7 linked regions of the Homo sapiens genome follow. The protein of the gene in region 1 purifies or fractionates together with the protein of each later gene. This does not show direct contact. Each region holds a gene or a part of one and is shown in the gene's direction. Other genes may lie near its edges. The genes, in order: SLC20A2, ACOT9, SDF4, LRBA, MYEF2, DSC2 and MEIOC.

Region 1 (3,864 bases):
AAAGATCTCTGTTGAGATATAAGCCAAAAAGACATTTGATGATATTCAGTATTTCTTTTTTTTTGAGACGGAGTTTCACTCGTTACCCAGGCTGGAGTGCCATAATGGCATGATCTCAGCTCACCACAACCTCCACCTCCCGGGTTCAAGCAATTCTCCTGCCTCAGCCTCCCGAGTAGCTGGGATTACAGGTGTGCAGCACCACACCCAGCTAATTTTGTATTTTTAGTAGAGACGGGGTTTCTCCATGTTGGTCAGGCTGGTCTCGAACTCCTGACCTCAGGTGATCTGCCCGCCTCGGCCTCCCAAAGTGCTGGGATTACAGGCATGAGCCACCGCACCCGGCCGATATTCAGTATTTCTAAAACACTACTAGAGTTCGTAAGAGTGACCAAGTCCAAGGTAAAAATAGAAAAATCCAGCACTTGTTCATCAGCAATAGCCAATTAGAAAATGTAACGGGAGGGAAAAAAACTGCCACCATAATTGCAGCAAAAATAAAAGTTATCTCAGAATAATCCTAATAAGCACTGTGAGTGTCATCAGGCACATGGTGTGTTCTTATAGTCCCAGCTACTCAGGAGGCTGAAGGTACGAGGACAGCCTGAACCCAGGAGTTCAAGACCAGTCTAGGCAACATAGTAAGACCCCATCTCTAAACAACTAAATAAATAATTTTTTAAAAAAGAAATGTGAGTGATATATATGGAAGAGGCACAAAACTGCTCAGAGGTATAAAAAGATAATCTGAATATGAGACGTAATGTGCTATTGGATGGGAAAACCAGATGTTGTAATGAAGTCACTTCTCCCTAAATACAACCTGAACAGGATTTTACTTGGAATTTTACAAAACGAGACTAAAGAATACATTTTGGTGAAATAAATTATCAGCAATATAAAATGATCTAACAAGAAAACTGAAAGGAGGAACTAGCCTTACCTGACGTATAATGTCATATAAGGAAACAAAAGTCAAGAGTAGGTCCTGGGAGGAGGGGCTAGAACTGGGTGTTAGTGTTTTATGGGGCAGTTTCCCCGTGGGATGATGAAAAAGTTCTGGAGACAGATTGTGGTGATGGTTTGCAAAACAATGTGATTGTACTTAATGCCTCTAAATGGTATGCTGAAAAATTACTAAAACTGTAAGTTTTATGTTATGTATATCTTACCACAATAATTTTTAAAAGTAGATACCTGGATAAGAACAGAGTAGATAGCAATGGATGGAACCTGTTCTATATGAGCATGTATTTTGAAAAAGGGAAAATTTAACCAGTAAGTGTTTGAAAGGTTGAATAGCTGACTGTCAGTCTAGAAAAACAAAATTAGACCACTCTCAAAATACATGAACATAAATCTGATGGCTTAAATAATATTTTAAAAATATTCTTAAATTTAGAGTAAAATGGAATTTTATTTTAGAAAAATAAAATGGAATTAAATATTTATCAAATATTCAAGCCAAGGATAAATCACAGAAGAAAATTATAGCATATTTTATTGCATGAAGTTAGAAACTTGAAAGTGAAACAAAGCAAAATACTACCTTAAGAAAATGTGTATTCGATATCACAGAGTTAATATTATTCAGTGAAGACTACACATAAATAAATAAGGAACACATTAGATTTTAGTATGTAAATGGACAAAATACATGAAGAGACAATTTTTTTTTTTTTTTGAGACGGAGTTTTACTCTGTCACCCAGGCTGGAGTGCAGTGGTGCCATCTCGGCTCACTGCAACCTCCACCTCCCCAGTTCAAGCGATTCTCCTGCCTCAGCCACCCAAGTAGCTGGGACTACAGGTGTGCACCACCACGCCTAGCTAATTTTTTGTATTTTTAGTAGAGATGGGGTTTCACCCTGTTAGCCAGCATGGTCTTGATCTCCTGACCTTGTATCCGCCCGCCTTGGCCTCCCAAAGTGCTGGGATTACAAGCATGAGCCACTGCACCTGGCCGACAATTTGTATATGTGAAAGCTAGAGAGAGTGAAATTCAGTAAATATATTTTTTAAAGTTCAGCCTTAATTGTAATTAAAGATACGCAAATTAAAACAGCAACAGTGCATCTTTTTGTCGGTTAATTAGCCAAAAAAAGAGCAACTTACATGATATCATGTGCTGATATTCACAGATTATGGATGACACTACATTAACAGCTATTTATAAAACTATTTGTCATTATGTATTAAGGTCCTAAAACACGTTGGGAGAGGAAAGAGCTCTTCCTTGAAGTAGAACTCCATGTGAGAAATTGCAATGGACTTTGGTAAATCACCATTTTATTTTATTTATTTTTTATTTTATTTTTTTTTGAGACTGAGTCTCATTCTGTTGTCCAGGCTGGAGTGCAGTATCGCGATCTTGGCTCACTGCAACCTCCACCTCCCAGGTTCAAGTGAGTAGCTGGGATTCCAGGTATGCACCACCACACCTGGCTAATTTTTTTTATTTTTAGTAGAGACAGGGTTTCACCATGTTGGTCAGGCTGGTCTCGAACTCCTGACCTCAGGTGATCCACCCGCCTCGGCCTCCTGAAGTGCTGAGATTACAGGCGTGAGCCACCATGCCCGGCCTGGTAAATCACCATTTTATAGCCATCGTCATAAACATTGGATTGTGAAATCTTTAGCAGAAGGGGAAAGTGAGGTTTGATAAGATGCAGGATATTTTAATCATATTAAAAAGTCTCTTCACAGATTGTGGCAAATGTCAAAAAATAGTGAATTGGGTAAAGAGAAAACAGGAGTTCTTGCAGCTTTTCTCTAAGTTTTGAATTATTTCAAGATACATTTTAAATGTTCCCTGTTAACTACAGTCGATTTCAGGGAATTTTTTTTTTTTTTTTTTTTTTTGAGACAGAGTCTCTCTCTGTCGCCCAGGTTGGAGTGCAGTGGCATGATCTCCGCTCACTGCAAGCTCAATGCAAGCTCCGCCTCCCAGGTTCACGCCATTCTCCCGCCTCAGCCTCCCAAGTAGCTGGGACTACAGGCGCCTGCCACCACGCCTGGCTAATTTTTGGTATTCTTAGTAGAGACGGGGTTTCACCGTGTTAGCCAGGATGGTCTCCATCTCCTGACCTCGTGATCCGCCCACCTCAGCCTCCCAAAGTGCTGGGATTACAGGCGGAAGCCACCGCGCACGGCCGGGAATATTATTTTTAAAGCCAAAATCCAACCTGGGCACAGTGGCTCACGCCTGTAATCCCAGCACTTTGGGAGGCTGAGGCGGGCCGATCACTTGAGGCCAGGAGTTTGAGACCAGCCTGACCAACATGGCGAAACCCCATCTCTACTAAAAAATATGAAAATTAGCTGGATGTGGTGGTGCTTGCCTGTAATCCCACCTACTCAGGAGGCTGAGACAGGAGAATCGCTTGAACCTGGGAGACATAGCTTGCAGTGAGCTGAGATTGCACCACTGTACTCCAGCACTTTGGGAGGCCAAGGAGGGAGGGTCACTTGAGGTGAGGAGTTCCACATCAGCGTGGCCAACATGGTGAAACCCCGTCTCTACTAAAAATATGAAAATTAGCCAAGGGTGATGGCATGCGCCTGTAATCTCAGCTGCTCAGGAGGCTGAGGCAGGAGAATTGCTTGAACCTGGGAGATGGAGGTTGCAGTAAGCTGAGATCACACCACTGCACTCCAGCCTGGGTGAAGAGTGAGACTGTCTCAAAACAACTATATAAAACAACTATATAAAGAGCTATATGCTGAAGAGAAGAATCCCCAAACAATTCTACCTAAAATCTAAGCTATTTTAAAAGCTTTAACAAATGTAGGGGACTGGGTAATGTTGTACTAGAGCTTGTTTCTGAGATTAGCCCATGTACATTGGTAGAGTGTAGCCTTTGTG
Region 2 (2,361 bases), on another chromosome or scaffold:
ACCACAATAATAATAGCTGCTTATGCTTATGGAGCATTGCCATGTGCTAGATAGGCACCATCCTCAGCCCTTGGCAGGTCTGAGCTCCTTTATTTCTTCCAATCAACACTATGAGGCAGGTTCTGTAACCCCCCTTAGGGTTAGGCCACTCGGGAAACTGAAGCACAGAGAGTTTAAGTAACTTCCTGGAGGTCCGACGCGTAACATGTGGAGGTGCTGGGATTCAAAACCAGGCAATGTGGGTCCCGGGCACTCTTGACCAGTGCCTGTACTTCTTCCAAGGAATAGAGCAAGGGAGGTCATACCGAATATCACAGTGTCACCTAGGAAGCCCAAGGGAGGTATTCCCGTTAATCTGCAGCCAAGGCCGGGCGCGGTAGCTCATGCCTGTAATCCCAGCACTTTGGGAGGCCAAGGCGGATGGATCATGAGGTCAGGAGTTCAAGACCAGCCTGGCCGAGATGGTGAAACCCCGTTTCTACTAAAAATACAAAAATTAGCCGGGCGTGGTGGCGGACGCCTGTAATCCCAGCTACTCGGGAGGCTGAGGCAGAGAACTGCTTGAACCTGGGAGGCAGAGGTTGCAGTGAGCTGTGATCATGCCACTGCACTCCAGCCTGGGTGACAGAACGAGACTCCATCTCAAAAAAAAAAAAAAAAAAAAATCTGTAGCCAAGACCGTTCCTTTTTTGACAGGAAGGTAACTTAGAAGAAAAAATAATCTCTGAAAAAAGTCCTCCCAAGAAGGAAGCAATATTTATTGTGGGTTCTACATTAGTGTTCACAAACTTGGCTCTGCCTCAGAATTAGGTGGAAAGTATTTTTGTGTGTGTGTGTGTGTGTGAGACAGAGTTTCACTCTGTCGCTCCAGCTGGAGTGCAGTGGCATGATCTTGGCTCACTGCAACCTCTACCTCCCGGGTTCAAGCGATTCTCCTGCCTCAGCCTCCTGAGTAGCTAGGATTACAGGTGTCAGCCCCCATGCCTGGCTAGTTTTTGTATTTTTAGTAGAAAGGCGGTTTCACCATGTTGGCCAGCTGGTCTCAAATTCCTGACCTCAGGTGATCCACCTACCTTGGCCTCCCAAAGTGCTGGGATTATAGGCATGAGCCACTGCACCCGGCCGGTGGAAAGCATTTTTAACAAAAAATTTTTAGGCCAGGCACAGTGGTGGCTCATGCCTGTAATCCCAGCACTTTGGGAGACTGAGATGGGAGGATCGCTTGAGACCAGCCTGGGAAACATAGTGAGACCCTTTCTCTACAAAAAGTTAAAAAATTATCTGAGCATGGTGGTGTGCACCTGTAGTCCCAGTTAGGAGGCTGAGGTGAGTGGATTGCTTGAGTCCAGGAGTTTGAGTCTGCAGTGAGCTATGATCATGCCACTGCACTCCAGTCTGGGTGACAGCAAGACCCTGTCTCAAGCAATTTTTTTATATTAGTTTATGTAATGTTTATTGAAATCACAGTGTCAACAAGCACCTCTGGCATGAAATAGTCACAGGAGCGAACACAACTATCTCTTGGAAGCATGCAGTTTGACTCATGGAATCAAGCATGTGCTGTACTATAATAACTTGTCTCTCCATGCCGTAATGCCATCCTGACTGAGATTTACCTGGCCCTTCAATATAGCATTTTGCATATCTACCTATGACATGATGGGAGGTGGCTAATGGGGAGGGATGCGCCCTGGGGAGTTTTGTGAATGTGTTAAGTGGAGTTAAGAGACCTACTGCATGCTATTGTATAGATTATACATTATATATTTAACCATTTGTTGCTGTACAGTGAAGCTTTTTCTAGTATTTCTTTTTTGCTATTATAAACAATGTTGCAGTAAATATCCTAAATACTCTAAAACATTTGACCCTTAAATTATTTTCTTTGGAAAAATATTAAATGAGATATTTAGGTCAAATAGTAGGCACACGTTGAAGGCTTTGAATATGTATTTCATGTAACCCTTCAGAACAGTTTCACACAATCACTTACACATCAGCAATTTCCCTGAACTTTGCCAATTTTTATCTTTTCTTTTTAAAATATCTTTGCCATTTTGATAGGTGAAGAATGACCTTCTGCTGGATGTGGTGGCTCACACCTGTAATCCCAGCACTTTGGGAGGCCAAGGCAGATTGCTTGAGGTCAGGAGTTCAAGACCAGCCTGGGCAACACGGTGAAAACCTGTTTCTACAAAAATACAAAAATTAGCAAGGTGTTGTAGTCTCACCAGTGCGCCAAAATGTAGCAGTCTTTGGTTGTCTGAGATAGTATCCGGAGTTCTTTGTGTCACAGAGCACGAACACAAGGGTGAGGTTGGAGCAAAAGTTTAGTAAGCAAAACAAGAAAGCTCTCGGCTG
Region 3 (4,736 bases), on another chromosome or scaffold:
CCTGTTTCTTAGTGAGAAGCTGAGGCCGGGGAGGCCACATGACTTAGCTAAGGTCATAGATCTCAAGAATGTTCAAGTCAGGGTCTGGAGAGTGACCCTAACCCCATGGGTCAGTGGCATGATGCCAGGAGGGACAGAGCCGGGCCCCACAGGAAAGCTGTGCTGCAGGTGTTGGGCGATGGGGACAGGTTAGCCCCTGGAGGTGCTGACAGCTCGAGAGAGAGATGGAAAGACGGAGAGACAGGGCTGAAAACTCAGTGTCTGTAAAAAAAAGACCGGGCACAGTGGCTCACGCCTGTAATCCCAGCACGTTGGGAGACTGAGGCAAGAGGATCGCTTGAAGCCAGGAGTTTGAGACCAGCCTGAGCAATACAGCGAGACCCGTCTCTACAAAGAGTAAAATAAAAATAAATTACTGGGCGTGGGGGTGCACGCCTGTGGTCGCAGCTGCTCCGGTGGCTGAGGCGAGAGCATCACCTGAGCCCAGAGCATCACCTGAGCCCAGGAGTTCGTGGTCACGGTGAGCTGTGGTCACCGCTGTACTCCAGCCTGGGTGACAGAGCAAGACCCTGTTTCTAAAAATAAAGAAAAAAACACCACGTGTGGTCCGGAGAAAACAAATGCCACGTGTGGTCCAGAGAAAACAAATGCCACGTGTGGCCCGGAGAAAACAATGCCACGTGTGGTCTGGAGAAGGCAGTGCCACGTGTGGTCTGGAGAAGGCGATGCCACATGTCTGGATCCTGTGAATCGAGGATATGTTTCATGTTGCAGGATAGACGTGCTTGGGGAAGTCTTTGCTGAGTCTTGCTAATGATGTGTCTGTGTCTCTCTGCAGACTGTGAGCTGCTTGTCCCCATCCTGCGGCCGTCCTGGGGACACAGAGCCCTCCGTGGTGCCCGGGGATTGGATTGGAGCCAGGACCTCACTTCCTCCTCTGCCCCTGCCCCTGCCCCTCCCAGCACCTGGCCCACACCCTGCAGCCCGCCCCATGGTCTGGCCCTGGGTGGCGATGGCGTCCAGGTGGGGTCCCCTCATTGGCCTGGCTCCGTGCTGCCTCTGGCTCCTGGGGGCAGTCCTTCTGATGGACGCGTCTGCACGGCCTGCCAACCACTCGTCCACTCGAGAGAGAGTAGCCAACAGGGAGGAGAATGAGATCCTGCCCCCAGACCACCTGAACGGGGTGAAGCTGGAGATGGACGGGCACCTCAATCGCGGCTTCCACCAGGAGGTCTTCCTAGGCAAGGACCTGGGTGGCTTTGATGAGGACGCGGAGCCGCGGCGGAGCCGGAGGAAGCTGATGGTCATCTTTTCCAAGTAGGTGCCGCCATGTGCCCAGACTGGGGGGCTGTCCGCGTGCGCTCGCCTGTGTGTTCCTATCCTGGCTTTGCGCGGTGGGGGGCGCCGGGCCCTGTGTCGGGACCTGCCGGGCTGGGAAGACGTGCCGGTGATGAGCGCCACTTCCAGCCTGCTGTGTTTGCGCGGAGGCCTGCGCTGGCAGCCCAGAGCCGCTCCTTGAATGCCCTGGGTCCGCCGGGGGCTCAGAGGGCCAGAGTGGGCCTGTGTGGCCGTCCCTAGGACAGCCTGGAGGAGCCCACGCGGCACTGCAGTGGTCAGCGTCCTCCATGCTGAGGGGCAGACGCCGGCCACGGGCAGCCTCCGCAGGCTGCAGCCCCAGTTGGACGAGGCCTGGCTGAGGAGTGAGGGGCTGCCACAGGTGGCTGGAGAGCTGGTACAGGGTGCTCTGGGCTCCTCCTGACACGCCCTCTACCCTGTGTGTTTGGGGTCCCTGTCACACACGGGCCGCGTATCACACGCAGGCTGGGGGTGTGTGGGGTTGGCTTGTTTTGCTGGCCTGGTCGGGAGCAGAGCTGTGCTGTCAGTGGCCCATCCTTGGCCGTCACTGCCCCCACCCTGCTGAGTCCCGAGACCCTCTTGCTGCCTCTGTGCCTAGTGCCGAGCTTTCTCCCCCGACCCCATCCCTGAGTCTCGAGAGCCTGTTGTGAGGGGTCCAAGATGGGTCAACCTGACCACTCACCCACAAGGAGCCAGGTCCTGCACGGGCGCCTTACTCCTTACGGCACGGCCGGGGTGCCCTGCGGTGTGGCCCTGGAACCTACTTGCACTCAGCGCTGGCCTCACCCCTGGAGGCAGAGCAGGGTCAGGGCGTGCCCGTGAGTCCCCCAGGCCAGCCAGGGTGCCGGGCAGGGAGCCGAGGTGCAGGTGAGAGAACACCCTGGGCCTCCTGGGACCTGCGAGACCTGGGCACAAGGAGGCAGCCCCCGCCGCAGGGCCTGGCCACGAGCTCACCTTCCCGCAGGGCCTGGCCACGAGCTCGCCTTCCCGCAGGGCCTGGCCACGAGCTCGCCTTCCCGCCGGGCCTGGCCACGAGCTCGCCTTCCCGCCGGGCCTGGCCACGAGCTCGCCTTCCCGCCGGGCCTGGCCACGAGCTCGCCTTCCCGCAGGGCCTGGCCACGAGCTCGCCTTCCCGCCGGGCCTGGTGCTCCAGGACCAGTGCAGAGGGGCAGGTGGCAAAGCTGGTGAGCAAGGGGATTGGGCAGGGCTGGGGTCCTGGGGTGCAGGAGCAGGTAGGAAAGGTGTGAGGACTGGTCTGGCTGTGCCACGGCCCTTGGGCTGAGGGCCAGGCGGGAGGGCCCTGAGGATCCAGGCTTTCGGGCGGAGCACAGGTGAGCTGGTGGGACGGAGGCACGGTGCCAGCTGGAGGACCTGGGCACCAGGTGTGGTGTCCCCTTGCACCTCTCCTCAGATGGTACGGTTCGGGGGTCCTTGCGTGGCCTGAGTTCACTTGGTGGTGAGCTGACCAACCCACGAAGAGGCTGCTGGTGCCCCTGGGGCCTGTCAGGTTCACCACCCCTGAGCTCACGAAGGCCTGGCTCGCGGCATCACAGGGGAAGGGTCCCCGTCCCTGCTCAGCCGGTGCTGGGGGTGGGCTGCACGCCTGGGCGAGGGGAGTTGAGGCTTCTGCTCGGTGCGTCTCCAGCTGGACCGGGGTTTCTTTTTGGTGCCTGTAACGAAACCCCAAGCTGTCTCGTTTGAGGAGGTGGGCATGGGGAGTGGGAAGTAACAGCAGGTCTCCGGGTCTCCCTGACTCCTGCGCCGAGCGGCGACAGCGGCCGCTGTGGGTGTTTAGACTTCCCTTCCCACACGCGGGTCCCTTCTCGCCCTTCTCCTGCGTAGGGCCCCGTCCCTCCAGGACCCACGTTCACTCAGCTGTCCTGTCTCCTCTGTCTCCTCTGGGCTGGAACGGTGTCTCAGACTCTCCCGTTTTTGTGAGGACGTAACAGTTCTGAGAAGGGCTGGGTAGGAGGTTTTAGGCTGTCCCTCAGTTTGGGCTTGTGGGATGTGTTTTCTCCTGACCGTACAGGGTTGAGGGTTTCTGGAAAGAGCCCCCAGAGGGGAGGTGCCATGTTTCCTCCTGACCGTACAGGGTTGAGGGTTTCTGGAAAGAGCATCCAGAGGGGAGGTGCCCTGTCCTAGGGGCTTTTGAGCTTCACTTCCTTCCCGCTTCCCTGCACCACGAGATGCTCCAGGCTTTCCTTCCCGCTTCCTGGCACGGTGAGATGCTCTGGGCTCGCCTCCGTGCCACCTGCCCCAGTGCAATAGCTGCCGCCTTTCCAGGAAGCCCTGTCTCCCGTGGCTGGAGCTGGAAGCCAGGGTCTGGGCACTGGGCGTCTTGCCCTTGTTCTCTCAGGAGCCAGAACTTGATAACATGCGTGTGTGCACCAGCCCAGTCACATCTGTGTTCTGCCAGCCCTGTTCACGTGTGTGTGCTGTGTACACGTGGGTACCGGCCTGTGCACTTGCGTGTGTGCGTGCCAGCTCCATGTACGTGCACCGCCCTGCAGCCGTGTCTTCAGGCACCTGAGTTTGGATGAGTGACTCCTTGCCGACATCTTGACTGGAATCCTGCGCCATGTGGTTTCTTTCCACCTTTTTGCTTTTTGCTCTGCCTCGTGTGTGTCTGTGTCTGTGGAGTGTGTAGAGCGTGTGGAGTGTGTGGCCCGTGTCTGTGGCATGTGGAGTGTGTGGCCCGTGTCTGTGGCGTGTGGAGCGTGTGGCCTGTGTCTGTGGCGCGTGTGGAGCGTGACCGGAGCATTCGAGGATGCACGTGTCCACGTGAGACCCACCAGGTGCCCCACCTGCCACATGGCCACCCGGGTGGCCCCGTCCCCAGCCGGTGTGTTTTGGGGACTGTGGAGCTGAGGGTGCCTCCCAGGCCCGTCCACCTCTGGGCTGCTGCGGCTGCTGAGGGAGGGGCGCGTGTGAGCGGCAGCCTGGCCTTCTTCCATGAGGATCTCTGCCCAGTGCTTCTGAGCCGTGCCTGCGGTGTGTGCACCCTCGAAGCTTGCCTGGCCCAGGTCCCAGAGGCCACACCTGCCTGACGAGGGCCTGCTTGCCACCTCATAACGTGGCCGCGGCTGCCCCTGAGCGGAGCATAGAGGCAAGGGGCCAGGGCACCCTACTCTCGGGGATGCCTCCGGCAAACGCACCAGCCGGGGTCTCAAGACCTCGCACCTCTGGAAGCCCTGCCTCCCAGTGCTGTTGCCCTGGGGGTTAAGTTTCCAACAGGTGAGCTCAGGACACGGGCGGCTGCAGCAGGGGTAGGAGCCTGTGGCTTCCACAAAGACATAATGGTGAAGCCGAGCTCTGAAGCTGGGACGGGAGTGACCTGTCCTGGGGCCTGTGGCCTCCTGACCTGGCCTGCGCTGGCCCCG
Region 4 (4,736 bases), on another chromosome or scaffold:
GGATCCCCTGAGGTCAGGAGTTCAAGACCAGCCTGGCCAACATGGTGAAACCCCGTCTTTACTAAAAATACAAAAATTAACCAGGTGTGGTGGTGCACGCTTATAATCCCAGCTACTTGGGAGGCTGAGGCAGCAGAATCGCTTGAACCTGGAAGTTGGAGATTGCAGTGAGCCAAGATCACACCACTGCACTGCAGCCTGGGCAATTGAGCGGGACTCTGTCTCAAAAAAAAAAAGGGTTATAGAGGTCTAGGGTAAGGCCTAAAATTGACTACCAAGTCCCAGGTGATGTTGATGCTGCTTTTCTTACAAACACACTGGAATAACAACGTTCTAAACTAGCATCATTCAAGTACAGCCTTTATTCAAAAAAGCTGTGGTAATTTGTTAATGCAGTTAATAAAATCATGAAATCTCTGTTCTTCTCCTGGAAACACTTCTTCCCTAAGTAAAAGTAAAAATACATGAAATGACTTTTTAATGTTAACTGGACTTCTTAGGTGAAGCAAAAAACAAAACAAAAAAACCCTTTTTTGCATAATTTTCCTTCTATATAGTTGTAAATATCGAGACTTTGTTAAATGATTTGATTATTAAGTGAAGAGAAGGTGGTGAGGAGAGAAGGCACAAGAAATGGAAGCAAACCATTAGGAGCCATGGTCATATGAAGAGATAAAGCACCTATGAAAACATAACATGGAAGTGGAAAATGTAGTTAATGACATATTTTTTCATATTTAGCAAGAATGTCTGTTACATAAACTAATGTATACCTGTGCTTTTTGCCACAAGTATAATTTTTACTCAAAATGCTATTCAAAGTATTTAATAGTATTAGTTTAAATGTAAAATTCCAAGTATTTTATATTTAATAATCAATGGTATATCTTGCTATTCTAAGTAACTTGGAATAACAATTTATAGACAGTTGTTTTAAAATTTAAGAGACATTCTAATTGTAAGCATAACAAAATAAAAGTTATCATTTATTGACTATTGTCATTTGTCATTGTTGATTTTCACGGTGACAATTTTGTTCTTTTTATTCATGAGGAAATTGAAGATAAAAGAAATTGGGAAACTTATCTATAGCTAAAAAGCTATAATTGGTGAAGGTAGAATTTGAATACTATACTTTTGTCTAACTAGTGCTCCTACTCTTTCTATTGTAGTATACTTCTTTAATCTATTAGTATTATAATTAAAATATTTAGACTTTATTGCTTTATGTGTGCCATTTTCGAAGGCTTTTCACTTTCCTAGAAAGAGTACATTTCTAGAAGTAAAAGTGCAAGGCTATACTAGCAAAGCCTTACTCAAGAATCATCAGATTCAGAGGCTAGGGAAATACTCTATGTTCCTAGTTTTTCATAGCCACGGAAAAGAATTAAGAGATAATTTAATCCACCCCAGTACCATCTGTTCTTATATATGGAAATGGGACTTAAAAAATGACTTGTCCAAGATCATTTAATAGAGTATGGTAAACAAAGTAACAGTCCAAATGTGTGATATCTTTTTTTTAAATTGTATTTGTGTAAATTTATGGGGTACAAGTGCAATTTTGTTACATACATGGATTGCTTAGTGGTGAAGTTAGAGCTTTTAGGGTATTCATCACATGAATAACACACATTGTACCATTAAATAATTTCTCATCATCAGACCCCCCTCACCCCCTCATCCTTCTGAGTTCTGAGTCTCCATTTTCTTTCTTTTTTTTTTTTTGGAGATGGAGCCTTACTCTGTCGCCAGGCTGGAGTGCAGTGGCAAGATCTGGGCTCACTGCAACCTCTTTCTTCCGGGTTCAAGCAATTGCCCTATCTCAGCCTCCTGAGTAGCTGGGACTACAGGTGTGCCCCACCACACCCGGCTAATTCTTTGCATTTTTAGTAGAGACGGGGTTTCACCATGTTGACCAGCATGGTCTCGATCTCCTGACCTTGTGATCCCCCCGCCTCGGCCTCCCAAAGTGCTGGGATTACAGATGTGAGCCCCCACCGCTGGCCTGAGTCTCCATTTTCAATCATTACGCACTCTACTTCCATGTGTACACACTATTTAGCTCCCACTTATAAGTGAGAACATACAATATTTGTCTCTCTGTGTCTGACTTGTTTCACTTAAGATAATGATCTCCAGTTCCATCTATATTGCTGCAAAAGACATGATTTCTTTCTTTTTTACGGCTGAATATTATTTCATTGCGTATATGTACCACAGTTTCTTTATCTAGTTATCTGTTGATGGACACTGGTGTCCTCATTCTTGTTTCCTGAGGTTGGAGTTAGAAGTTAGGATGACAGCAGTAAGAGTAACTGATTGAAACCAGGAAATGAGGTGTGATTTTTAACTTTGTAATACAGACTCAAATTTGATTTTATGCAACTTGTGAAAAAGTTTGTATGAAAAGTATTTCCTGGGTCTGATAGCAAATTTGATAAAGTAAAATATTTCTTGGGTCTGATAGCAAATTTGACAAAGCTGTATTCCATATTCTCTCTTCCCTCCTCTTGTTCCCTCCTTCCTTTCTTTCAACTTTTATTGCTCTCTTTGGGCACCTTTCAGAACACTTTCTTTCTAAATTCTCATGCCTGCTAGCCATGTGATAGGCCAGTGATTCTTTGTGAAGTCCCCCCTTAAGTTTGCTATTTTGTTCCTAATTTGCTCTCCCTCCTTTGCTCAGTTCAAGTACCTTGAGTGCTACAGATTTGGAGGGAATTTAGATGATTACATGGTATCAAGCAATTCATAGTGAAGGGTACATAATGTAATTCATCATTTAAAATCCAAAATTAATTTCTAAGTAATCTAACTGCCTGATTCGTGGGAGCCTTAGGTAATTTTAGACTGTATATTAATCAAATTCCCTTTCCTGTCTCCCATTTTCTAAGCAGTTTTAATGAAAGCTAGTAAATGCTGGACCCTATAAAGCTTCTTTCAAAAGCTATATCCTCTATTAGTCTCAATTAATATCATGCTGTAATGATGCAATATAAGAAGAACATCAAAGTTTCCAGTTTAACTAATTTACTTTAATGATGGTAATAGAAGATTGTTACCTCGACTAGTTCATGGTAATGTACTTTGTTCCCTGTTTTCTTCCATTTCTTTCAATTCTTTTCTTCCCTATCCTTTTCTTAACTAAAGATTGTCCCAGCTAGCTTAGTTGAGATCTAAGAAATAGTAGCCTATTGTTAAGATTCCTGAACTGATTTCCTTTCAGCAAACCCTAAACGTTTAGACCACTAGGCCATACTGCCTCCCTAAATCTTAACTGGGCCACAGCATGGAAGCTAACAATATCAGACAACCAACACTAGGCGATAAAGTCTAGGGACATTTTAGGAATAAGCTGAATGTCGTCTGTTTTGAATAAAATCTTATGTAAATCATATTGTGTAGTTGATGTTTTTCACTTCCATAATCTTAAATATTAACTTTTCTTTCCCTATCTTTTCCTTAAAATAAATTACAGTTTGTGCAGTCGCAGTAAGGAATTGCTTGGAGTGTCAACAGCATTCACAACTGAAAACTAGGGGAGATAAAGCCTTGAAACCAATGCATAGCCTTATTCCTTTAGGGAAATCTGCAGCGAAGGTAAGTATACAGATTAATTAATTTTCAAAAAGCATACTCCTATTTTACAATTAAGATTTTTATTTGTTCATTTCAACATAAAGTTAAATAAATCTGGCAGAGATTAAAATAGTTACTTTAGGCCTGCATATAACATTCAAATATTTGTGTTTAAATACACAATAAAGATTTGTTTATATTTAAACCTCTCTGCTTTTCCCAGTGTTTACTTTGATTGTTTCTGTGATGCCTTTTCCTTCAAATATGTCATTTTTTCCTGCATGCCATCTTTCTCCACCTCTCTCCCCAACCCCTCAAAGAAGAAGGAAGCATACACACAAAAAAAGTGGGGAAAGGAATGCTATAGCTTTGCTTTTCTGGTTCTGGGAATACTGTGTTTATTTTTAAAGAATATCTGTGTAATGTATATATGAATATATATATATACAATTTTTTTTTAATCTTAAATAGAGCCCAGTGGACATTGTGACTGGCGGTATATCTCCAGTAAGAGATCTTGACAGGCTTCTACAGGACATGGATATTAATCGGCTTAGGGCAGTTGTTTTCAGAGACATAGTAAGTTACAATATGTCTTTCACATACTCTCTTAACTGATGCATATTTCCTCTTAGGCCTAATGTATTGAGATTAAAAATTCTTTGTGATATCAAATAGTGGAGCAGAGATAGAAAGGTCTAGAAACGACTTCTTTTGACAATGATTTTAGAAACAGAATATTAGAAAAGATAGTTTATATAAAGCGAGCTAGCAGATCAGCATAGTGATATTAAAAGGAATAATGCATTATTACATAGTAAGCAGTCTAAGTGATATACATGTATTAATTAAGTCCAACAACTTATTGAGCTGTACTATTGTAATTTCCATTTTATAGATGAATAATCTAAGGCACATAAAGCTTGAGTAACATCTCCAAGCTAGTGTTGATAAACAATGATAAAATCAGGATTCAAACCCAGCAGTCTTAATTCTAAAATTGATGCTCTGAATGTAATAAAATGTTCAACTTCTGAATGGCATATTATTTTACTGAATATTGGATATTTTTTCCTCAAAGGTACACTAATGTGATAAAAAGGTGCATGATGAAATGTTGCTCTCAGTTTGGTGTTTCTAATTTTTTAAAGTTGAAA
Region 5 (4,736 bases), on another chromosome or scaffold:
AAGTGTTACGTGCCATTTTTTTTTTCTCTTTGGTAACTTTTCCTGACTAATCAGCAATACATTCTAAAATGTTTGGTAAATTTATACACTTGAAGGAAAAAAAGTCCTCTGTAATTTCACCATCTGTGGGTAACCTCATTATAACATTTTTGTGTATTTTCTTCTAGCCTGCTATGTATATTTTTTACATAGTTGGGAACAAAAATAATTTTGAATTATTTTTTGTTTAACATTAGAGTATAAGCATTTTTTCATGTTGAAGATTCTTTTCAAATATTTTTATTGGTAGTATAATAGTCTATCATATAGATGTTCCATAACTATTTCACTGTTCTGTATTTTAGGTGTTTTAACTTTTCTTTTGAGTAACCACAGAGTAACACATGCCTTTTTGTTCACAAATCTTTGTAATGTTTTTGAGTACTTCCTTCAGACAGATATTCTGAAGTAGATTTACAGTTCTCATGGGTTAGTATTATCAAATTGTTTTCCAAAATGACTATAACAGTGTAATATACTTATTGTATTATGTGTCTCAGTGCCTCTGTGTCTCAGTGCCTCCTTTGAAAAGTGGGGAGAATAATATTGTCTACGTCATGGGGTTGACATGAGTATTACATGAATTAATATATGTAAAGCACTTAGAATCATTTTGGCATAATGTAAACACTCAATAAATATTAGCTATTGTTTTTACTATTTCACTGCATCTTCTCTGGTTTTTAAAGTATTCTTATAAGAAATCTTAAATATACAGACAAAAGTAAAATTACTCATATAGTTATCATATGCCATATTTGTTGTAGATTTTTTTCTTTAAAATAAATAAAATTTTATGGTAAAATGGAGCTTCCCCATCTCCCTTGCCCATCTTTCAACTTATGCCTTATCCAGAGGAAACAACTTATGGATAGAGTATTTATCATTTAGGTTTTAATAATTTGACTACACATTTGTACATCCATAAACATAGGGAATTGTTTTGTTGGATTTAAAATTTTGTTTGAGTGATATCATAATGTATTATGTAACTTGCTTTTTTTTTTAAATTGTTTTTGAGATTCATTTATGTTGATAGATGTAGCTCTAGTTTCTTCATTTTAACTGCTGATACCACATTTTATACATTTTTCTGTTTTTTAGGTTATTTTAATTTTTAGTTATTGTGTATTAAGTTGGAAAGTATTTGCTATTTTTTATCAGAATTATATGTTCTCTTTATATTTGCTAGAAATTATGTGTAAAACTGGCCTTCCTCTGTTGTTTCTGGGAAGTTTTTAACTACTGATGGTTTATATTTTCTGTCTTTTTTTTTTGAGTCAATTTTTGTAATTTCTATTTTTCTAAGGATTTTTTCTGTTTTTGTTCATTTTCAAATATTTTGGCTTAAATTATCTCTTAAGTTTTTGCTACATCTATGTTTCTGTTTTAAAAATTCTGAATGCAATTTTTATTTTTTTCTTGGTTAATTTTGTTAGAAATTTGTCGGTTTTAATAGAGTATTCAAATAACTGAATTTGGATGTTTTGTATTTCTAATTTCTGCACTTAGCCTTATTATTTTTTCCTTCTATTTATTGGGGTTTAGTGTGTTTTTGTCCTAACTCCTTAAGTTGAATGCTTACTTCAAATTGGTAGCTTTTCCTTTCTAATATAAGCATTTATGACTATAAAGTTAGTACATGGGTTTTGCTATGGAGCATTTTTATGATGGGTCAGTTTTTAGAGTATTTAAAAATTACCATTATGGGCCGGGCATGGTGGCTAACACCTGTAATCCCAGCACTTTGGGAGGCCCAGGCAGGTGGATCACTTGAGGTCAGGAGTTCGAGATCAGCCTGGTCAACATGGTGAAACCCCGTCTCTACTAAAAATACAAAAAAAAGTAGCCAGGCATGGTGGCGCATGCCTGTAGTCCCAGTTACTCAGGAGACTAGGGCAGGAGAATTGCTTGAACCTGGGAGGCAGAGGTTGCAGTGAGCTGAGATCGTGCCCCTGCACTCCAGCCTGGGTGACAGAGGGAGACTCTGTCTCAAAAAAAAAAAAAAAAAATTACCATTATGATTTCTTATTGAGCCATGTATTATTTGAAAATGGAAGTTTTCAATTTCCAAATGTATGAGTTTTTTTTTTTTTCCTTTGTACTTTTTCATTTTAATGTGGTCAGAGAACATGGTTTATATGTGAGTGTGATTCTTTGGAATTCATTTGGACTTATGGATGGCCTACCATATGGCACATTTTTCTTAAGTATTCTGGGTACAGTTGGTGAGTGCAGTGATCTATATGTGTTCATTAAATCAAGTTTGCTAATCATTTAAATTGTCTTAGATCCAATACTTTTTCTGCTGTAACACTGTTTATCTTATTATCTTATGTGTCTGGTAAAATTGCCCAATAGAATAGTGGATTTGTCTACTTTTTCTTGTTTTTACTTAAATATTTTTAAGCTAGCTTAGTAGGTGCATCTAGATTAGAATTGATATATTTTCCTAGTGAATTAAAAATTTTATTGGGTGATTTTTTTTCTCTAGTAGTTACTTTGAGTCTTTGGTCTCATTTTAATGTAAGTACAGCAGCTTTATTTTGTTTAGTACTTGCCTGGTACATTTTTCCTATTTTTTTACTGTTTCAGGCATGCCCCTTATAAAGGGTGTTATTGCTGGGCTTAGACTTTTTAAAAAAATCACTTTGATAGTTTTTTTCACCATGAAATTGAAGAGTTCAATTTCTTCACATGTATTGGTTCATTTGGATTAATTTCCATTATATTGTGTCTTATTTTTTTGTCTTACAAATACTTATTTTACTCCTATCTTGGATTCTTCTGGATATTTTAATATTTCTGTGAAGCCTGAAGTTAATATAATTATTCTTTTATGTAATAGTAGAGTGACCTTTGGATACAGTCACTTTCCTACTGAATTATACTATCATTGCTCAGCATTTTAGTTCTGTATTATTAGTTCTGTACTATTTTTTTTTCTGTCCTGCAAATTAGACAATGTTATTTACCATTTTCTTGTGTCATCACTCCTCTGCTTTTATAGACTCTGGCACTAATTTTTTTCCCCTGAAGCATATATGTTAGAAGCTCTTTTAAGTGAGGATCTTTTATTAGTAAATTCTCTCAATTTTGGGTTTTAAATGTTTTCAAAGATAGTTTAACTTGTATAAAGATTGATAATTATTTTCTCTAAGCACTTTGAAAGTATTCTACAGTCTTCATGTTTACACTGTTGCTATTAAGTCAGCTATTTGTTGAATCGTCCTTTCTTTATAAGTAATCTGTCCTTCCTGTGCAGTTTGTGCAGTTTGACAGCAAAGACCAAAGTCTTAAAATCAGCTACATGTCATTATGCAAGCAACCTAAGGTCTCAAAAATTTCCTCTTCTATGGACAATAGATGTGGAAACACTTAAGGTGCCATATAAATATAAATAAATATTTATATCAATGAGAAAACTAGGTAATATAATATTTGCCTTATTCAGTGTTATACTTTCATGGTTATTGACTTTTTAGTTTGATTTGAACCATTTAAAAAGTAATTATCAAATTTTAAGTGGGTCTACAAATTTGGGCAAGATACTCATTTTCAGATATGTGTGCCATATATAAGGTGATATGATATTATTCAAAATCCTCTAGGTATTTTATTATTCCTCTCAGTGTACCTTTAAGTGGGGTATAAGGTGTACTTTGTATTATATCATGTTTTATTTCATAAAACACTTCTCATTAATAAATGGTTTTATAGTCGGGCTTCAGTGTGCTACTTTCTAGACAAAAACAAGAACCAGTGCTTTTATATGAAAATTTGCAGAAATTTTACAGATACTACTACAGGTATATAGCTTTTTAAAAAATTTTATTGCCAATTAGTTAATCATATATGGATCTTTGTAATGATTGTTCTCATTTTTGTTTTAGGTGGTCTTGGAGGCATTGGGATGGGACTTGGTCCGGGTGGACAGCCTATTAGTGCCAGCCAGTTGAACATAGGTGGAGTAATGGGAAATTTAGGTCCAGGTGGTGAGTATTCTAACTTCCTCTTTTCTTTTTAAATGATACATATGCTAGCTAATAAAGCCTCCATTGATGTGGTCTGTAATAATGTTTAAAGGACTCTAATTAATAGTTAGATATTTACGGTGTCACTTCATTCTGAAAAAGGAATGAAACCTTGAGCACAGCTAACATGAAAGAGATAGGCAGAAGTCAGGAGGGTTTCTTTGGGGCCAGCTATGTTGTAGCTAGCCTTTTAGCATTTTGGATTTTGAAATGTCTTGAAGGCAGAAGGAGAATATATCATCTATGAACAGTATTTATGGAGTAGCTGAAATGCTACCATATCATAGGCAGCTAAAATCTGTTTATCCATTTGGGAAGGTGGCTTTTCAGGTAGTTATTTGGCTGCTCACCTGGAAGAACTCACAGTTCATTTTTAGAGATTGGTTTTTAAACTTTGGTGTTAGGACCCTTTTATATTTTAAAATTTGTTGAGAACCCGAAAATGCTTTGTTTATGTAGTTATAATTACCAGTATTTACTGTATTATAAATGAAAAATTAGAAATTAAAAAAATTACATATTAAAAAATGATAAACTCATTACATGTTAACATACATAAAAGTTTTAAGAAAATAAACTATTTTTCAATGCAAAAAAGAAATTGGTGAGGAGAGTGGCATTGTTTTACCTTTCCACACATCTTTTTAATGTTTGGCTTAATAT
Region 6 (4,736 bases), on another chromosome or scaffold:
AATTTTTTTTTTTTGTATTTTTAGTAGAGACAGGGTTTCACCGTGTTAGCCAGGATGGTCTCTATCTCCTGACCTCGTGATCTGCCCACCTCGGCCTCCCAAAGTGGAAATTTCTTGTATTATCTGACTGGTTTTGTTTATGGGTATGAAGACTAACCATATTTTCATGGTTATTTCTGCTTCCTTACTTAAGTCTCTTCTTGTTTTATAGTAATGTAATGGTTGATTTGCTTGGGTTTTCCAGGTAAACAGTCATATCAAATGCAGAGATTTTTTTTACATCTTCCTATCTAATATCCTTCTCTTGCAAATATACCTTCAATATAATGTAAACTACATATAGTGACCTTGGAGAGCCTGTCTTGTTTCTGAGTTTAATTGGATTGCTTCTAGTGTTTTCCCATTTGTGTTGTGTTATAATTTATAAAGATCACATTGCAAAAGTACTTATCAATTCTTATTTTTTGAGACTAAAAAAAATAAGAATGGTTATTGAATTTGGTCAAGTGCCTGTCAGCATCTATGATGGTGATCACATGTCAAGCCTTCGTTAAATTCATGGCTTGAAGTTTCTGGACCAAGCAAAAGATGTGAGTGTGGATCACAGATCCACGCCAGGGCCAGTTTACTTGTGGCTCAAATTTGTAATGAAGATTTAGCATTTGGGTCCCAGATTAATGTGGAGCGGATCCTCTTAGATCTTAGGTGGGCCCTGTGCTTTGATTTCATTCTCCTTCTCTCCAGAGGCCAGCAAAGCAGAGTCAAATCTTTGCAGATCAGAAGTTGTTCCTGAGTTCCTCTTATCACTGTGTGTTCCAGCTTTATCTTCAGTTTTGGCCTAGCAATTGCTTGCTATTTTGTTAGCTCTTTGATGCTTTAGGATGTTTGAAAAATGTTATCCCTGATTTTTAATTAGTTTTGGCATAGGTTTTTCTTAATTACCTAGCTTGTTATTATTGAAAATGACAGTTTTTTCCATTCTCCACATTGGACAGATCTATCACATTCAAATATAAAGCTGCTTATTTAATTTATTTGCTCCAAGTAAATCTTTGGTTTCTCATTCTCGTTAGGAAAAAAGATCCATGTGCTTTGCTAATGCCGTTCAAAATCTGGCCCACACCCACTTCTTTGAGCCCATGTTATACCTCTGCCCCCGCTCTGGTACACACATCAACCATTCCAGATTTCTTCTTCAGGTCTGTGCCATCTCTGGGCCTTCACATATGCCATTCTTCTGTTTGCAGCATTTAAGCTCTGCCTCCTCTTAGCCTGTCTCACTTGTAGCCGCTCTTCAGGTGACCTCACCTGGCTTTTAGATATCACTATTACCTCTGCTCTCCCATAGCTCCCTGTACTTCCCTATCATTACATTTGTCTTACTTTGTTGAAATTACAAATATGTCTTACCTTAGATTGAATGTTTCATGAGGATCATGTTTACTGCTCTGTGTGTGGTACATGATACACATTCAGTAAATATTTGTTGAATTCATGCATGAATGGATGGATGTCCAAGATACTGTTATTCAAAGAATTGTCTTAATCCAACCATTTTTCATCTTCTCCAACATTATTACCTTAGCCCAAGTAACCATTACCCCACTCTTAGATTCCTGCTGTAGTCTCCCAATCAGTCTCTTGGTTTCCACTCTTGCTCTTCTATAACCTATTTTCCACATAACTAGTAGAGTGATTCTGTATAAATATCAGTTTACGCCACTCCACAGCTTCTTCATCAGGCTGTTGCTTCTCTTTGCACTCAGAACAAAATCTGCACTCCTTACCATGACCTTTTAGACCCTACATCATTTGCCATTGACTGTCCTTTTGTTTTCTTCTCCTGTCACTCTTCCCTCGCTGTGCTCTGCTGCTATGACCACCTTGTTTCTGCAATACACAAGTCTCCTTCCAGGGTCTTTACTCTGGTTCTTGCCCTACCTGGAAGACTCTTCCCTGGTTAGAAAACTGGTTTACTTCCTCACTTCATTTACGCTCAGGTATTCTCGTTGTCACCCTCTCTCCCTGCTTTATTTTTGTCGTGACATTTATCTCTCGCTGCCTTGGCATTATGTGACATTTGTGCATTTGTGTATTTCTTTTGCTTCTTATTATCATGTAATCTTCGTGAGGCAAGGACTTGGCTTTGTTCACTGCTCTAGCCATTGAATCCGTTTAGCACCTACTAAGCAACCAGTAAATGTTGGTTGAATGAATAAGTGAATGTATTCTTCCAATCACCTTGAGCTGGAATCTTCAGAATCATCTGATTCTACTCCTATTCTCTCTTGGCTATGCAGCCAGTGAAAATTCTTCATATCATTTAATTTCCAGTTCAAAACTAATGTCTTCATTGTGTCTATCCCAACATTCCAAATGAAACACAACCTCTGCCTTATTTGATCCTTCAAATGTAATTAAAACTGGATAATTTAAGTCTTTAATATATATTAAAAATAAACATTTCCATCCAAATTTTGATGATTTTAGTTTATATTTATAAACTTTGTAAGTAACAGTGTAAATGCTAGTTAACTGTCTTGCTTTTGGTCAAAGATGTTTGTAAAACTAGAAAAAAAGAATGTGAATCTTTGAGAAACATCCATTGTAAAGTTTCAGACAGAACAAAATTAAATTTCAGTGTGTTTACGTATATGTTGCATTGGACTTGGTTCACCATGAATCACTAAACCATTGAAAATTTTTAAGTAAATTATTTTCTAAAATGAACTTAACTTTTATTTATGAGAAGATACACCTTCAAAATAATTTTATATTTCAAAGTTATGTGCCTATTGTGTGGAGTAACACATAAATATTCTCCAAATCACTTCATGGCAATAAGTTAATGTTTGTCTTTAAAAGCATTTACTTTTTGTTTAGGATATTATTGATTTGATATCATATCTCATAAGCAATTAAAAATGTACTGAAACAGTTTGCTGCCTCAGTAAATTTGGTTTTCTCTTTCCTATGTATATACCTGTGCTGCCTTCCTGATAGTTTTCAGCACTCTCCCACCTAGGCTGTTGTTGGATCGTCACTGTACCCACTGAGTTAATCAGTGAAGTTATTACATACGTTTTACAATATAGTAAACAAAGCTGAAGAGCATACATAACTCTTTGAGTTTACAAGCTTTTTGCAGGAGGAAGCTAGAACTCAGTATATTGTTTTATTCTTCTCCTTGATATATTTTTGTCCTGATTTCTTTCTCCAATATGTTTTTATTTTATCTCCAATATTTTATTTATGTTTTATTTATAATAACATAAATCACATATAATTATAAATATAAATTCATGTATTTATATTTAATTAAATATTTTAAAATTAATATTTAGTGTAGTCAATATGTAATATAATTAACATTTATATAAGTATTATATGCCTTTTTATGTGTATATCATTATAAATTTATAATTTATATAAATAATATACACATTAAAGTTTTCTTTTTATGCATAATATTTATTTGATTTTTTTTCATTTTTTAGATCTTAATATTTGCCAGTGATGCCTGCAAAAATGTGACATTACATGTTCCCTCCAAACTAGATGCCGAGAAACTTGTTGGTAGAGGTAAGGAAGCCCTAAAATTTGTAATAAATCCTGTTTTGCTGTGGTACATATACGCCATGGAATACTACACAGCCATAAAAAGGAACGAGATCTTGTCCCTTGGAAGGGATGTGGATGGAGCTGGAAGCAATTATTCTCAGCAAACTAACACAGGAATAGAAAATCAAACACTGCATGTTCTCACTTATAAGTGGGAGCTGAGCAATGTGAACATGTAGGCACAGAGTGGGGAACAACACAAGTGGGGCTTGTTGGGGGTTCTGGGAGGGCGAGAGCATCAGGAAAAATAGCTAATGCATGCTGAGTTTAATACCTAGGTGATGGGTTGATAGGTGCAGCAAACCAACATGGCATGTGTTTACCTATGTAACAAACCTGCACATCCTGCACATGTACCCTGAAACTTAAAATAAAAACACACATACAAAATAAATCCTGATTTGCTGTGGTATTTTAAAATTAGTGTAATTTTTAGAATGATAACTCTGTTGGGACCAGTAGATAAAACTAATGTAGTATATTATCATTTGTAATATTTGTGGTGTCATTCTAATGAAAGGAATATTGTTATTTTTGGAAAACATGATTATATGAAGTTGATAAAAATATTTCACTTGAGTAATAATTATTAACATTTACTTTAGAGAAAAGATAAAGACATTTAACATGCCTCTAAAAAATTGAGAAATAGTACTGAAACTGTTTTTTTTAGTTTAAAGATACTGTTTTTGGATTTTTATTCTTAAATATTTCACTCTGTATTGTATTTTTTTATCAATTAAATTATTTCACATAATTCTGTAAGAAAAGATCAATCCAATGATAGCATAAAATGTGATCACTGTTTAGCAATAGATGTAAAGAATTTAGTAATATTTTCATTTAGCAAATGCCAATTTTCATCTGCTAGATTCTGTATAACTTCAGGTGTATTTAGGTGTTACTCTATAGCTTATTTCTGTTGATAAAGAAAAAAATTGTTTTGGTTTTGGTTTAAAGATTCAAACACTGGAGCTCACATATGTTTACTTCAGAGCAAATGTCTCTTCTTTAAGAGAATGTTAAGTAGGTATTAGAAGTGATGTAAGTATTTAAGCACAACTTAATTCACCATATAGTTTTATGTGTCCTTTCAAAAATTTACAAGTGTCAGT
Region 7 (4,736 bases), on another chromosome or scaffold:
TCCGCTTTCTTATTTTTCTCATATTCTACAACAAATGAAGTTTTGATGTGTCTGATAAACATTTCTTAAAACTTTCAGAGTGAAGACAATGTAGACCTAAGGCAGACCTATACTCCATTTTCTTCAACAGAATATTCAAGTTCTGTAGATTCTTCACTTTTCTGTGCACCATGGTCTACTTATGGAGATGACATTAAACAACCTTCTAATTCTCAGATCAGTATAAAGAACAGGTAAATTAATTCATTTCTCAAGGTAATTGAGGTATTTTTAAATTTAATTACATAGGAACTGAGGTTATTTGCTCTCTGTTCCCTACATTATCATTTTACTATTGTGGCATTTTGTGTTTTTCAAACTTTTAGGAAAGTGTAAACTGGGCAGTTATTTGTGTATAGTTTTTACGGTGTTTTGCTTTGTTTTGTTTTGTTGAGACAGGGTCTCGCTCTGTCACCCAGTCTGGAGTGCAGTGGCGAGATCATGGCTCACTACAACTTTGAACTCCTGGGCTCAAGCCATACTCCTGCCTCAGCCTCCACAGTAGCTGGGACTACAGGTATGCACCACGGTGGTCAGCTAACTTTAAAAAAATTTGTTGCCTTTTCTTTTTAAGAAACGAGGTCTCACTTTGTTGCCTAGGCTGGTCTTGAACTCCTGGCCTCAAACCATCCTCCCACCTTGGCCTCCCAAAGTGCTGGAATTACAGACATGAGCCTCTGCCCAGCTAGGTTATTACTTAAAAAAATTCATTAGTGGGAACATTTAGTGCATAAATCTTAAGTTCTTCTTTCTAAAGATGACTTATATGAATGAGTTAAAACTTTTAGATGTTTTTGTCATCCAGTTCTAAATTTTCCATTTTTTTCCTTCACAACTCTACAACAAACAGGGTTTTATCAAACATAAGATATTTTAAATTATTTTTCTGTTCAATTCCACAAATAATAAGGGCCCCCTGTACATCAGATGCTTTTCTATGGGGGATACCAGAATTTAAACATGGCAAATATTATCCTTGCCTTTATAATCTTGATGATGATGATGATGATGATGATGATGATGATGATGACGATAACTAGGATATTATGGGAGCCTATTGCAAAGAGGAGCCCTAAGGGAGTGACATCTATCTTTAATTATATATGGGAGCTATTTATAGAGGCTGATGCCTCATTAGTCTAACCAGGAAATAGTTATTTGTATTTATTAGAAAAGTGTTAAAAAATTAAAATTCTTGGCAAATTCTCTAAAATAATTTTATTAGAAAGTCTACGTAATACATAATTCTACAAAAAACAAAAATATTTTTAAAGTTGATACATGCTATTGAAAAAATTCAAGCCTATTCTCGCTTTTGGCTAAGATCAAGTGAAAAAATTCAAACTTTTCAGAAATATATATCAAGAAAAGTGAAAGTCTGTCTTAACCTTCTCCCCCCGCCACCCAATAACAGCTGCTAGCAGTTTGGTATATATTACATTGAATTTTTTTTAGATATATACTAATACATAATTACACAAAAAAGCTTTTATATTGAACTTTTATGAGATAACACATGTAGTAGAAAAGGTATTGGACTTACAGGGAGACTATTTAGCAAGTATGTAGTAGTTTGGCAAGTCATATACCCTTGCAAAATACAAGTTTCTTAATATCTCAAATGATCATTCATTTATTCAACAGATAATAACGAATGATTACTAATGCTTACCTTTCCAATGTTATGAAGATCAATTAAATATGAGTGTTATGCAAATATAAGGTATTTTATTTCAAAAATATCCCAACACTATGAAATGTTGAAATATGAAAAAACCGGAAGTTACAATTTATTATAAAACAATGTACAGGGCCGGGATTGGTGGCTCACGCCTGTAATCCCAGCACTTTGGGAAGCTGAGGTGGGCAGATCACAAGGTCAGGAGTTCGAGACCAGCCTGACCAACATGGTCAGGCTGAAAATACAAAAAAAAATTAGCCAGGCGTGGTGGCACGCGCCTGTAGTCCCAGCTACTTGGGAGGCTGAGGCAGGAGAACCGCTTGAACCTGGGAGGCGAAGGTTGCAGTGAGCAGAGATCGCGCCATTGCACTGCAGCCTGGGGAACAGAGCGAGACTCCATCTCAAAAATAAATAAATAAATAAATAAACAAACAAACCAACAAATAGATGTACAGGTTGAGCATCCCAATCTGAAAATCCGAAATCCAGACTGATCCAAAATCCAAAACTTTTTGAGTGCTGACATGATGCTCAAAACAAATGCTCATTGGAGCATTTCAGATTTTGGATTAGGGACGTTCAACCAAATATACAAGTATACATTATATATTTGGAGTATAATGTATATTTCCAGAATCCAAGAAAAAAACCTGAAATCCAAAACACCTCTGATCCCAAGCATTTTGGATAAGGAATACTCAACCTGTATTACTTCAAGGAAGAAATTACCCAAAAACTGTAACAGGTAAAAGGTACCAATCTTCCACGTGCTTGTGGTTTTTACATTTTGTATTTAGTCAGTATCAGTCACTAGGTGGATTTCTGGGATAAAAGGAACTCCATCCAGTCATGCTTTGCAAGCATTAGGGATGGCTCCCAAATCTGTTACATTTAAGCGACAACTGCAAAATTGCTGTGGTGTCTAGGATGACCATATCGCATTTCACTTTTTTATCCAATATTAATATAGAGTCACAAAAATAGAATAGAGCATCAGGTTCATATGGTTTTCAAATTGCAAATGAGGAAGCTGAGCAGGTGTTGATGGAATAATGTATAATAAGACAAGACTTGCTTTCAGGAGCAGCTATGATACCAAGCATGTCTGTGACATCATAGATGACAGATTTATATCTTGGTCACCTAAAATGAAAACCATGTGTTGTGGAGAAATAAGAGGTAAGCATGCACTGTAAGTTAGATATAGGATTTGAAATGAAGGAGAAATATTTATGTGGAAAAGACATTTCCACATAAAAATATTTATGTAGAAAAGAAAATATTCTTGAGTTCTAGTCTCTTCTTTATTTGAAATGATGGTGTAGATTCAGTCCACATATTTTATAGATAAAGATGGTAAGGTAGGATAAGTCTGGAAAGAGTAATCAATATATTGTATTTCAGCACGAATTCATTTATTTTTAGGATTCAAACAGAAAGAAATGACTATGGCAGTGAAACAGACTTATATGGACTTGTGTCTAACATTTTGGAAGAACAAGATAAGTCACAGCCATATTTTGCTGAAGGGTTAGTATATAATCTATATAGTATATAACAGGCTTTTAAACTAACATACACTAGTTTACCCTGTTTATTAACTTTTATTTTTACTTAATAGTGGATCATCTGACAGTAGGTATCTTAATTCAAATATTGTTTCAAGGAGACTTGATTTTGCTGAAGTATTTGCTATATAATTGGAAGTTCAGTCTAAGGTTTTGTATAAGGACTTTCATTGAAAAATTATTCTTGCATAATTCAGAGCTATTTCCCTTGAGTTCATGAACTAAAGATTGGCTTAAATAATATAAATTCAAAGGAACTTTTATACATAGATCCCAAAGAATAAAACTCATTACTACTATGCAGAAATACATATGGATTTTATTCATGTGTTAGAAAATTTTGTAATGTTTCAATTGTTTTATTGAAGTGTGGAAGCTATATTACCCAAATATACTATTTCATAAATAGGGAAGTATGTAGCACACATATAACCAATTAAAATATTTTAATTTCACAAAGTTTAAGCAAAACACATTTTTTTCATTAAAAAAAACTGTGGTCAACAATGCTTTTATGTAATAACCTAAGCAAAGGAAAAACTTATTTTCTGCTTACTATAGATAAATAATTCATCTAAGACCATGAAGTCACATATTAGGCCTTAGTTATTGTCTCTTGGGAAAGTACAGCGAAGACATTAAAATGCATATTTATGTAACATACAGCACATTTCATGTGACAGATAATTATCTGGAGCTAATGGTAGCTTATAAAGCAGAGTTGAAAGGGATTAGAGAATGGTGACATGGGGCAAGATAAATGTTTTTGAAGACCTTTTCTCCCTTTTCCACTGAAGAAATAAAGTCTTTAAAACCTAAGTTGTAATTAAATATATTTATTTGTTCTAGGACCTGCTCCTCCAATTTAAAGTCAGTTTGGCCAATGAACACAAGCAGATTTGCAGATCACCATGACCTCTTAACAGAAACCAAAAGGCCAATAGATACAGTCATCTCTCAGCAAGCTTTTTATAGTGATGAATCTGTGTCAGCAATGGAAAAGCAATACCTGCGTAACAGTAATCTCACACCACAACAAAAAATAGATGAACTTCATCATGGATTTACTGGTTTAGATCTTGAAGAACAATGGATGTACCCCTCACGAAGTGATCATTCTAACTGTCACAATATTCAGACAAATGATACAGCTAAGACAACATTCCAAGAATATCCACTTATCAAAAACTGTTTTACACCCCAAACTGGTCTGTCTGATATCATGAAAGAATCAGGAGTTGATATCTACCATTATGGAAGAGACAGAATATGTACTAAAGGTCTTGAAGCACCACTACAGCAAAAAAGGGCAGAGATGTTTCTTTCTCAATTTAATAGATACAATGAAAATGTAGATTATTGTAGATACCCAGAGTATGTTCATCCTAATAAGGCTAAGCTTAATAAATGTTCAAATTTTAGTGTCCAAGATAGCAAAAAATTAGCCA

The links.
Region 2: the proteins of SLC20A2 (region 1) and ACOT9 purify together in Homo sapiens (affinity purification with mass spectrometry; one large-scale study listed by BioGRID and IntAct). This does not show direct contact.
Region 3: the proteins of SLC20A2 (region 1) and SDF4 purify together in Homo sapiens (affinity purification with mass spectrometry; one large-scale study listed by BioGRID and IntAct). This does not show direct contact.
Region 4: the proteins of SLC20A2 (region 1) and LRBA purify together in Homo sapiens (affinity purification with mass spectrometry; one large-scale study listed by BioGRID and IntAct). This does not show direct contact.
Region 5: the proteins of SLC20A2 (region 1) and MYEF2 purify together in Homo sapiens (affinity purification with mass spectrometry; one large-scale study listed by BioGRID and IntAct). This does not show direct contact.
Region 6: the proteins of SLC20A2 (region 1) and DSC2 purify together in Homo sapiens (affinity purification with mass spectrometry; one large-scale study listed by BioGRID and IntAct). This does not show direct contact.
Region 7: the proteins of SLC20A2 (region 1) and MEIOC purify together in Homo sapiens (affinity purification with mass spectrometry; one large-scale study listed by BioGRID and IntAct). This does not show direct contact.

What each region holds. Positions count from the first base shown.
Region 1 is NC_000008.11:42,418,006-42,421,869, reverse strand, and holds part of SLC20A2 (sodium-dependent phosphate transporter 2), read left to right. Parts: intron 1-3,864. UniProt on the Homo sapiens protein: Sodium-phosphate symporter which preferentially transports the monovalent form of phosphate with a stoichiometry of two sodium ions per phosphate ion.
Region 2 is NC_000023.11:23,700,555-23,702,915, reverse strand, and holds the end of ACOT9 (acyl-coenzyme A thioesterase 9, mitochondrial isoform a precursor), read left to right. Parts: 3' UTR 1-1,861; downstream 1,862-2,361. UniProt on the Homo sapiens protein: Mitochondrial acyl-CoA thioesterase. Catalyzes the hydrolysis of acyl-CoAs into free fatty acids and coenzyme A (CoA), regulating their respective intracellular levels. Regulates both mitochondrial lipid and amino acid metabolism.
Region 3 is NC_000001.11:1,225,049-1,229,784, reverse strand, and holds part of SDF4 (45 kDa calcium-binding protein isoform 2 precursor), read left to right. Parts: intron 1-838; 5' UTR 839-991; coding exon of another isoform or gene 992-1,012; coding exon 1,013-1,317; intron 1,318-4,736. UniProt on the Homo sapiens protein: May regulate calcium-dependent activities in the endoplasmic reticulum lumen or post-ER compartment. Isoform 5 may be involved in the exocytosis of zymogens by pancreatic acini.
Region 4 is NC_000004.12:150,843,522-150,848,257, reverse strand, and holds part of LRBA (lipopolysaccharide-responsive and beige-like anchor protein), read left to right. Parts: intron 1-3,478; coding exon 3,479-3,600; intron 3,601-4,050; coding exon 4,051-4,158; intron 4,159-4,736. UniProt on the Homo sapiens protein: Involved in coupling signal transduction and vesicle trafficking to enable polarized secretion and/or membrane deposition of immune effector molecules. Involved in phagophore growth during mitophagy by regulating ATG9A trafficking to mitochondria.
Region 5 is NC_000015.10:48,153,090-48,157,825, reverse strand, and holds part of MYEF2 (myelin expression factor 2), read left to right. Parts: coding exon of another isoform or gene 1-46; exon of another isoform or gene 47-699; intron 700-3,932; coding exon 3,933-4,034; exon of another isoform or gene 4,035-4,736. UniProt on the Homo sapiens protein: Transcriptional repressor of the myelin basic protein gene (MBP). Binds to the proximal MB1 element 5'-TTGTCC-3' of the MBP promoter. Its binding to MB1 and function are inhibited by PURA.
Region 6 is NC_000018.10:31,092,405-31,097,140, reverse strand, and holds part of DSC2 (desmocollin-2 isoform Dsc2a preproprotein), read left to right. Parts: intron 1-3,497; coding exon 3,498-3,582; intron 3,583-4,736. UniProt on the Homo sapiens protein: A component of desmosome cell-cell junctions which are required for positive regulation of cellular adhesion.
Region 7 is NC_000017.11:44,662,239-44,666,974, forward strand, and holds part of MEIOC (meiosis-specific coiled-coil domain-containing protein MEIOC), read left to right. Parts: intron 1-78; coding exon 79-233; intron 234-3,145; coding exon 3,146-3,250; intron 3,251-4,137; coding exon 4,138-4,736. UniProt on the Homo sapiens protein: Is required for meiosis completion in both male and female germ cells. Confers stability to numerous meiotic mRNAs in gonads allowing proper initiation and progression into meiosis prophase I.